Homo sapiens: one gene and its partner. The protein of the gene in region 2 interacts with the protein of the main gene of each other region in a pairwise test. Each region holds a gene or a part of one and is shown on either strand. Other genes may lie near its edges.

Evidence for each region.
Region 1: the proteins of SKAP2 (region 2) and FYB1 interact in a protein complementation assay, tested with the Homo sapiens proteins (one study listed by BioGRID).

Annotation. Positions count from the first base shown.
Region 1 is NC_000005.10:39,217,671-39,221,423, forward strand, and holds the start of FYB1 (FYN-binding protein 1), read right to left. Parts: upstream 1,894-3,753; 5' UTR 1,773-1,893; intron 1-1,772. UniProt on the Homo sapiens protein: Acts as an adapter protein of the FYN and LCP2 signaling cascades in T-cells. May play a role in linking T-cell signaling to remodeling of the actin cytoskeleton. Modulates the expression of IL2. Involved in platelet activation.
Region 2 is NC_000007.14:26,738,983-26,742,735, forward strand, and holds part of SKAP2 (src kinase-associated phosphoprotein 2), read right to left. Parts: intron 3,390-3,753; exon of another isoform or gene 3,360-3,389; intron 983-3,359; coding exon 905-982; intron 1-904. UniProt on the Homo sapiens protein: May be involved in B-cell and macrophage adhesion processes. In B-cells, may act by coupling the B-cell receptor (BCR) to integrin activation. May play a role in src signaling pathway.

The DNA of each region.
Region 1 (3,753 bases), on a different chromosome or scaffold from region 2:
CTTCAAGCTCAGGATCTTGATTCTGGAGTCACAGTCTTAACCGCAACCCCTGGAACCACAGCCCAAACCCGCCAGCGAGCCACGGTTCACTCTCTTCACTTTCTTGTTTTTAGAAATGTTCCTGTAGAGCAGCCTCTAGTAACACCTCAGACAAATGAAATATCATTTCTACATCCCTGATCTCTCTCTCTTGTTAACGTATTGTGTAAATGGTGGAAAATGTGGTTTTTAAAGCACATTGAGGCTGGTAAAAGCTTCAAAGCCACCGCCTGCACTTACTCTTTAGACCACTAGATGTCAGTGTGATTGCTCTATGAAGCAGCCGTAACTTGGCAAGGTGCAGCATTGCACCAGAAATCAGCTGCTGCGAGCTTCCAAGCCTCTGGACTCCAGCAGAAGCTGGGGGGAATTTGAAGCCCAATGGTAGTAAACAAATAATGGACATGACAGTCAGGCAGTGTGGATTTCAACCTTTACAATAATTTCTCAAGGGAAATGGAAACCTTTTTAGCCTTTCCTTTTTGAAACGGATGGTCAACTTTTCCACGGGGTGCCTTAAGTGCACCATAACGCCTTTGATATTCAGGATCGCCTTTAATGGTACATCATAAAACATGTGGTTTTATTGGAAAGAGCACCCTTATCCTCCTCCCCCTCACCTATCACTTATGATTAATTTCTTAAGGTATCGGACTATTTGAAGTGTGTGTATCTCACATTGCATGGGGACGTTTTACTCTACCTAAAACCTCCGGTGGCATTCCCATAGCATGGGCAGAAAATCACAGCCACAACTTCACCCTTCCGGTGATAAGCCCATCTGTTTCCCACGCAGAATTATTTGTATTTAATGAAAAAATATTTAAAATGGTGAATATTAATTATTATTTTACATTAGTACTCAAAAAGTGTATATAGTTTTATCCCCTCAACAACTCCATGAGATGAGTTCTATTATTATCCCCATGTTTAGATGAGAAAACTGAGACACAGAGAGGTTAAGTGGCTCTCCCAAAGTCACACAGCTAATAGAAGGCAGAGTCAGAGGCCCATTTCTATTAATTACTTCCCTGCAAATCAAGTTAAATGGGGGGAAAAGACCTTGTGAATTTTTCAGAAGAATCAGCAATGTATACAAGACAGCCAAAGGCTCCGAGGAAAATTTGGAGTTGCTGGTTGCTTTGAAAGGCCTCCTTGGCTGATCTGCAGCTGTTTGTCATCATTTATCCAGTTTGCCAGGATTCCTTCTGAGAAGGCATAATTCATGGCAGTATAGTCCCTTTCTTTAGTCTATGTAGAAATCTCATGTGAATCCTCACCTCCTGCCAGGTTTGGAGGAAATTGAAAGTTACTCTTTCTCATCAAAAGGATGGACACATATTTGTTAGGAACCAGGATGAAATAAACCATCTGTGCCCAGCTCTGTTGGCAATAAAACCTTGTTTCTGGTTTCACTGCAAGACGTTATTTAACGCTAGTGGCACCAGAGGTTCCAACAAGAACACATGAGAGGCCTTATCCAGTTACGAAAGAGCAAGTGACAGACACGTTCCCGGCCACATTTTTATCTGCTTATCATCCTTTTGGCTACCATGAGGCTGAGTTTTAGTGTCTCCTGTTCATCTCTTTTGCTATTTTCCAACAGAACATGCGTTTCCTTCAGTTATTCAGCTAGCACAGTCTGTGCTGCCAGAATTTGGAAGTGGTGCTTTTTTCCTGCTATAAAAAATTACACATTTATTTGAAAGAAGAAACCTAGGCATAGCTGTTACCTGACTCCTGCAGAAGAAGGCGGAAGGATGGCCTCCTTTAGTGGATCTTCCTGGGCCAGGGTCTGGGCCCTACTCACTTCTAGCTGTCGCATCTGCTCTGCATGTGGAACTCAAGAACTGCGGAGCTTTCTGATGCCTGGCAGGGTTTTGTCCCGGTCAGTGGTTGAGTGAGCCACACCTCCCTCCCCTGACCAGGCAAACTTAGACAAGAAAAGTTCTATTATGCCCTCAGGATATTGAGTAATAAGGAGGAGAAAGGGGAACTTAAAAGTGTCTGTTCAGCCTGGATACTTCTGCTAACATTCCCACCAAGCATGTGATATTTAAAAGGGTAAAACCAAAACAAGATTCTCCTGCCTGCCACCATGTTTATTCAAGAGGAAGAAGCTGTAAGTTCTTTGGACCCATAATCTTTCCACACACCCAGGAGTGTCACCTGCAATGGGGGCCAAAGGGGGATGCTTACAATTAGAAAGGTCCACTGGAGCATGTGGAATATTTGGAAGCTAATTGCACCTGAGGTCAGGAGGTAAAGTGGTGTGCTTGACCATATCAACTGAAGAGTGGTCACTCATGTGTGGAAAGCCCACTAGACTCACTCTGTCGGCTCTCTGTTAGACTATTCTTGAGGCTGGAAGAAATGGAGTATTTAGATGATAATCCATGTGAAAAGACCACCAGTGGGGCTGAGTGTAGTGGGTCATGCCTGTAATCCCGGTACTTTGGAAGGCTGAGGCAGGAGGATTGCTTGAGACCAGGAGTTCAAGACCAGTCTTGACAACATGGTGAGACCCTGTCTCTACAAAAATAAAAAAAAAATTAGCCAAGTGTGATGGTGCATGCCTGTAGCCCCAGACATTTGGGAAGCTGAGGTGGGAGGATTTCTTGAGCACAGGAGTTCAAGGCTTCAGTGAGCTATGATTGCACCACCATTGCACTCCAGCCTGGGTAACAGAGCAAGATCCTGTCTGAAGGAAAAAAAAAAAAGAAGAAAGAAAGAAAGAAAAATAAAGAGAAGGAAAGAAAGAAAGAAACTCAAAAAAGAAAAGAGAAAAAAAGAAAAGAAAAGACAAGAAAAGAAAAGAAACCCCCCAAAACAGAGGCTACCATTGGGACTAAATGAGATTTTAACAAATTGTGATTGTGAAATTAACCTCCCCCACCTTCCTTCTACTCATTCATTCATAAACATCAAACACTTACTGTGTGGGTCAAGCACTGGCCAAGACTAGAAAGATGGAGAAGACAAGGATTTTCCACTCAGTGGCTTATAATCTTACAGACGTTATGCCAGAGATGGTCACTTTCCTCCCCGTATGATTTTCCCTTCTTATAGAGTAGTAGGGTCAGCAAACTATGGCCCGCATGCCAAATCTGGCCTGTGGAATGTTTTGTACAGACCTCAGGCTAAGAATTTACATTTTTTAAGAATTGTAAGAAAAGGGAGAAGAAGCAAAAGAAGACAATGATGGTAACAATGATGATGACAACAATGATGATGACATGGCTGAGACCGTATATGGCCTGAAATATTTACTATCTAGTCCTCTGCAGAAAAAGTTTGCCAAAAGTTTAGGATGCTTATTCTATCCTAAGAGATCTCTGGCTTTTTACCTGGCCCACAGCTACACAGGATAAGGCATTTTCTAGTCCCTCTTGACATTAGATTTGGCCATGTGGTTAAGTTTTAGTCAATGGGATCTATGCAGAAGGGATCTATGTAGCTTCTTGGTGTGTCCTAAAAGAGGGCCCCATCATGCTTTCCCCTCCCAGCTGGCTGGGATGCTGTGGGGGCCTGAGCTCTTCTGATCCAGTGATGACTAAGGTAATACTCTAGGCATGACAGAGCCAGGAGATAGAAGGACCTGGCCCCCAACACAGGAGACAACCCCATCTTCACTGGATTTTGCTAGATGGTTATAAAGAAGGGAACAGGAGGACAGACATTTAACTTTTAAAAATCAGTGTTATGTTGTGTCTC
Region 2 (3,753 bases):
ATTTGTATCTTCTTTTCCAAGAGACAAAAAACCAAACAACAACAAACCAACACAGCTAAAGGGAATAAAGTAAAGTAGCTATGGGGCTGCCATACTTATGGGATCAACAGCATGGCTAACAAAGTTTTCTGACAGGGACAGTCAAAAAGGTATCTGACTATACAGTCTTGAGATAATTGATCCATCTGGGTCTCATTTTCTCATCTGTTATAAAAAGAAGGGGAGGAGCTAACCTAGATTATTTCTGTTATCTCTTTCAGTTTTAAAATTCAGCTAAGAAAGCTAAGAAAAGCAAAATGAAATATAAATAGAAAGGCCTAAAGGGACTACAAGAGAGATAAGCAGAATGGTAATGAAAAGACTGTCTGCTTTTCATTTCTCATATTATAAAACCACCTCCATATTTCATTTCCATTAAATATTGGTGTTGAAAGAGTGAGACCATATGGTCAACTCCCAATTATCATAGCCAATGGAGAGGAACACTGAAATGAATAATAGACAATGGCAGACAAAACTCCAGGCTTGATCTGAACCATGGTGCATGCCAGTTTGGGCATAGGAGAACCTGCTGCTCAGCCCATTGAGATACTGGTGAGAAATCCCACCTTTGAGAATACAGTCATGGCCTGCAGCTTTCCTTTGAGAGGCAGGAAACAGCTCCTGAATCATTTACAAATAACCAAGGTTGACAACTAAAAACCTAACCTAATGTTTTCTTATTAAAAATTATTTAAAGCTAAGAGCTATATTTTGTGGTTTGGATAATGTCATCCAGATTTTCTTACAATCTTTAAACTCTTTAATCACCTAAAACGAATACTGCCTCCACATGTATACTACAAACATGTTCTATCTAAGGATGAAATTATTTTTACATTTTTCATTAGAACCTTCAGTTTACCTTTTCTGCGTTTTTCAAGGTAGCCAGCCTTTAGAACAAAAGGAAGGTCTTGTGCTGCAATTGGAGGAAACTGGGCTCCTATGAGAAGTTGGGGAGAGAAAAAAAAAAGCAGTGGGTAATCCATTTCAGAATAAACAAGTGCCAGATCTCATTAGATTCAGTGTGCTTTTAATTACTGAAATTGTTTAAATCTAAGTCTATTAGCTTTGTTTCAGATCCATTCCCTAGATTAATCCCCTCTATTCCTCCTAAAAGTCTCAAAAGTAAAAAAAAAAAAAAAAAAAAAAAAGTTCTGTACTCCTATATGTTATTATAGCCTCCCAAAATACAGGACTGAGAAACTATTATAAATAAATGCAATAAATCCCTGAAAGAGAGGTTAAGAATTTCAAATAAATCATAGCTTCGTTATATTTATATTGAATTAACTCTTTAAAAATTTCAATACATATTGACTCTTTCCTGCATAATCCCTATTCCTACCAAGTAAAACATAAAATGCTTTTCCGAATCAAATGCTGAAACTTGTTTCTCTGAGCCCACAGCAAATATTCTCTGTGTTTGTATTCAGAGAAATGTTATGGACATTCCACTGAGTGAGTATGCTTTAGGTTTTTATAGGGCATTTAAGAGTCTAAAACTAGACAGATCTGATAAAACTATTATAAACAAATACTGGATCCCTAAAAAAAGTTTTTAAATCAAGCAAAAGTTAAGTTGATTAGAAATTGTATATTCACGGTCATGGATTATAGGTTACTCAATTTTACAAGTGTTCAATATTTTTATAAACTTCATTAGAAATATAATAGTTATCTGCCGGGCGCAGTGGCTCACGCTTGTAATCCCAGCACTTTTGGAGGCCGAGGCGGGTGGATCACTTGAGGACAGGAGTTCGAGACCAGCCTGGCCAACACAGTGAAACCTGGTCTCTACTAAAACTACAAAAGAAATTAGCCAGGCATGGTGGCGGGTGCCTGTAATCCCAGCTACTTGGGAGCTGACGCAGGAGAATCACTCGAACCCAGGAGGCAGAGGTTGCAGTGAGCCAAGATCACGCCATTGCAATCCAGCCTGGGAAAAAAAAGAGAAAAAAACGAAAACAGAAAAGAAAAGAAATATAATAGTTATCCTCAGCATTTTACTAGAACTCTAGCAAGTGAAAACAACCAATCAAAAGAAAGTTTGTATGGAATACATCCAGTGGAAATAGTTTCAGTACAACTTAGGATAGAAAATGTGTTTGAGTACAAACATGTAATTAGAATGAATAAGATCTAGTATTTGATAGCACAACAGAGTGACTATAGTCAACAATAATTTATTGTACATTTAAAAATAACTAAGTGGCCGGGTGCAATGGCTCATGCCTACAATCCCAGCACTTTGGGAGGCTAAGGAAGGAGGGTCGCTTGAGCCCAGGAGTTTGACACCAGCTTGGGTAACACAGTGAGACCCCCATCTCTACGAAAAATTTAAAAATAACTGGGTGTAGTGGTATACGCGCCTGCAGTCCCAGCCAGTGGAGGAGGAGGGTAGAGGTGGGGGGAAGGGGGTCTGAGGTGGGAGGATCCCCCAAGAGGTCAAGGCTGCAGTGAGCCATGATTGTGCCACTGCGCTCCAGCCTGGGTAATAGAGTGAGACCCTGTCTCTAAATAAATAAATAAATAAATAAATAAATAAATAAATAAATTAATAAAATGAAATAACTAAACAAATATAATTGGATTCTTTGTAACAGAGAAAGAATAAATGGTTGAGGTGATGGATACCTCATTTATCCTGATGTGATTATCATGCATTGTATGCCTGTATCAAAACATACAATATGCCCATAAATTTGCCTATTGTGTACCCACAAAAATTAAAAATTAAAAAAAAGAATGGGTTTGATAGGAAGTTTATTATTTACAAACTCATCACCTAATTTTACCAGTTTTTTTTTTTAATACCATGGGGATCACAGTAGTGATAAAGTCATGGATATTTTTTCTTAAGAAATAAAGCTTAAAATTAGAGCACTAATTTCAGCTCCTTGGTGGATCAACTTCACCCAGTAAACACCACACAGTATCATTAAAACATATTTAAAATAGAGCCCTGATTTTGAAATGTATATGAAATTTTAGGGAAAGTCAGTGTACATATTTTAATAGCTGTTCAATAAATGTATCCAGTTTTTTTCAAAATAAACTTGGTACATATAAAGGTATAAATTATTTATTATAGGATTTTGTACATAAAACAAAAATTACAAACAGAAATCTTATCTCTGTAAACAAGTCCTGGTGAACCACTAATCTAAAGTGGATAATTGTGGAATGATCTGGTCTCATTAAGGGGTAGTCCCACAACCCTCTCACTTCCATTGGGCATAATAAATGCTCTTTACATAAGGAATGGATGCTCACAAAATCTTAAGAAAAGTTAAATTATTCTGAAAAGAAATGGGTACCTTTAGCATAGCTTTCAACTCTAAAATGTTACTGGTCAAAAAGGAGACAGAGAGAGATGGGAAGAAGGGAGAGGGGAGAGGAAGTGGGGGAAAAGGAAAAGGAGAAGGGAAATTAGAATTTACTAGCGTTCAATATACACATAGCCTGAGTCTTTTGCTTTAAGAAAAGTGTTGACTAAATTTCCACCTGATACATCACAATAAAATTTGATGTCATAAGCAATACTTGTTCTGAATTCTAAATTCATGTTTCTAATATAAAATCTTTGATTTCTTCCCTGGGGAGTGGGGGAGTACATTTTTTTTAACTGAAATTTCATTTTTCTAAACCTTTATTGCTGTTTGTCCAATATCCAGGATTTGCTTAATAGCCATATGAATTCTTTAAAACACA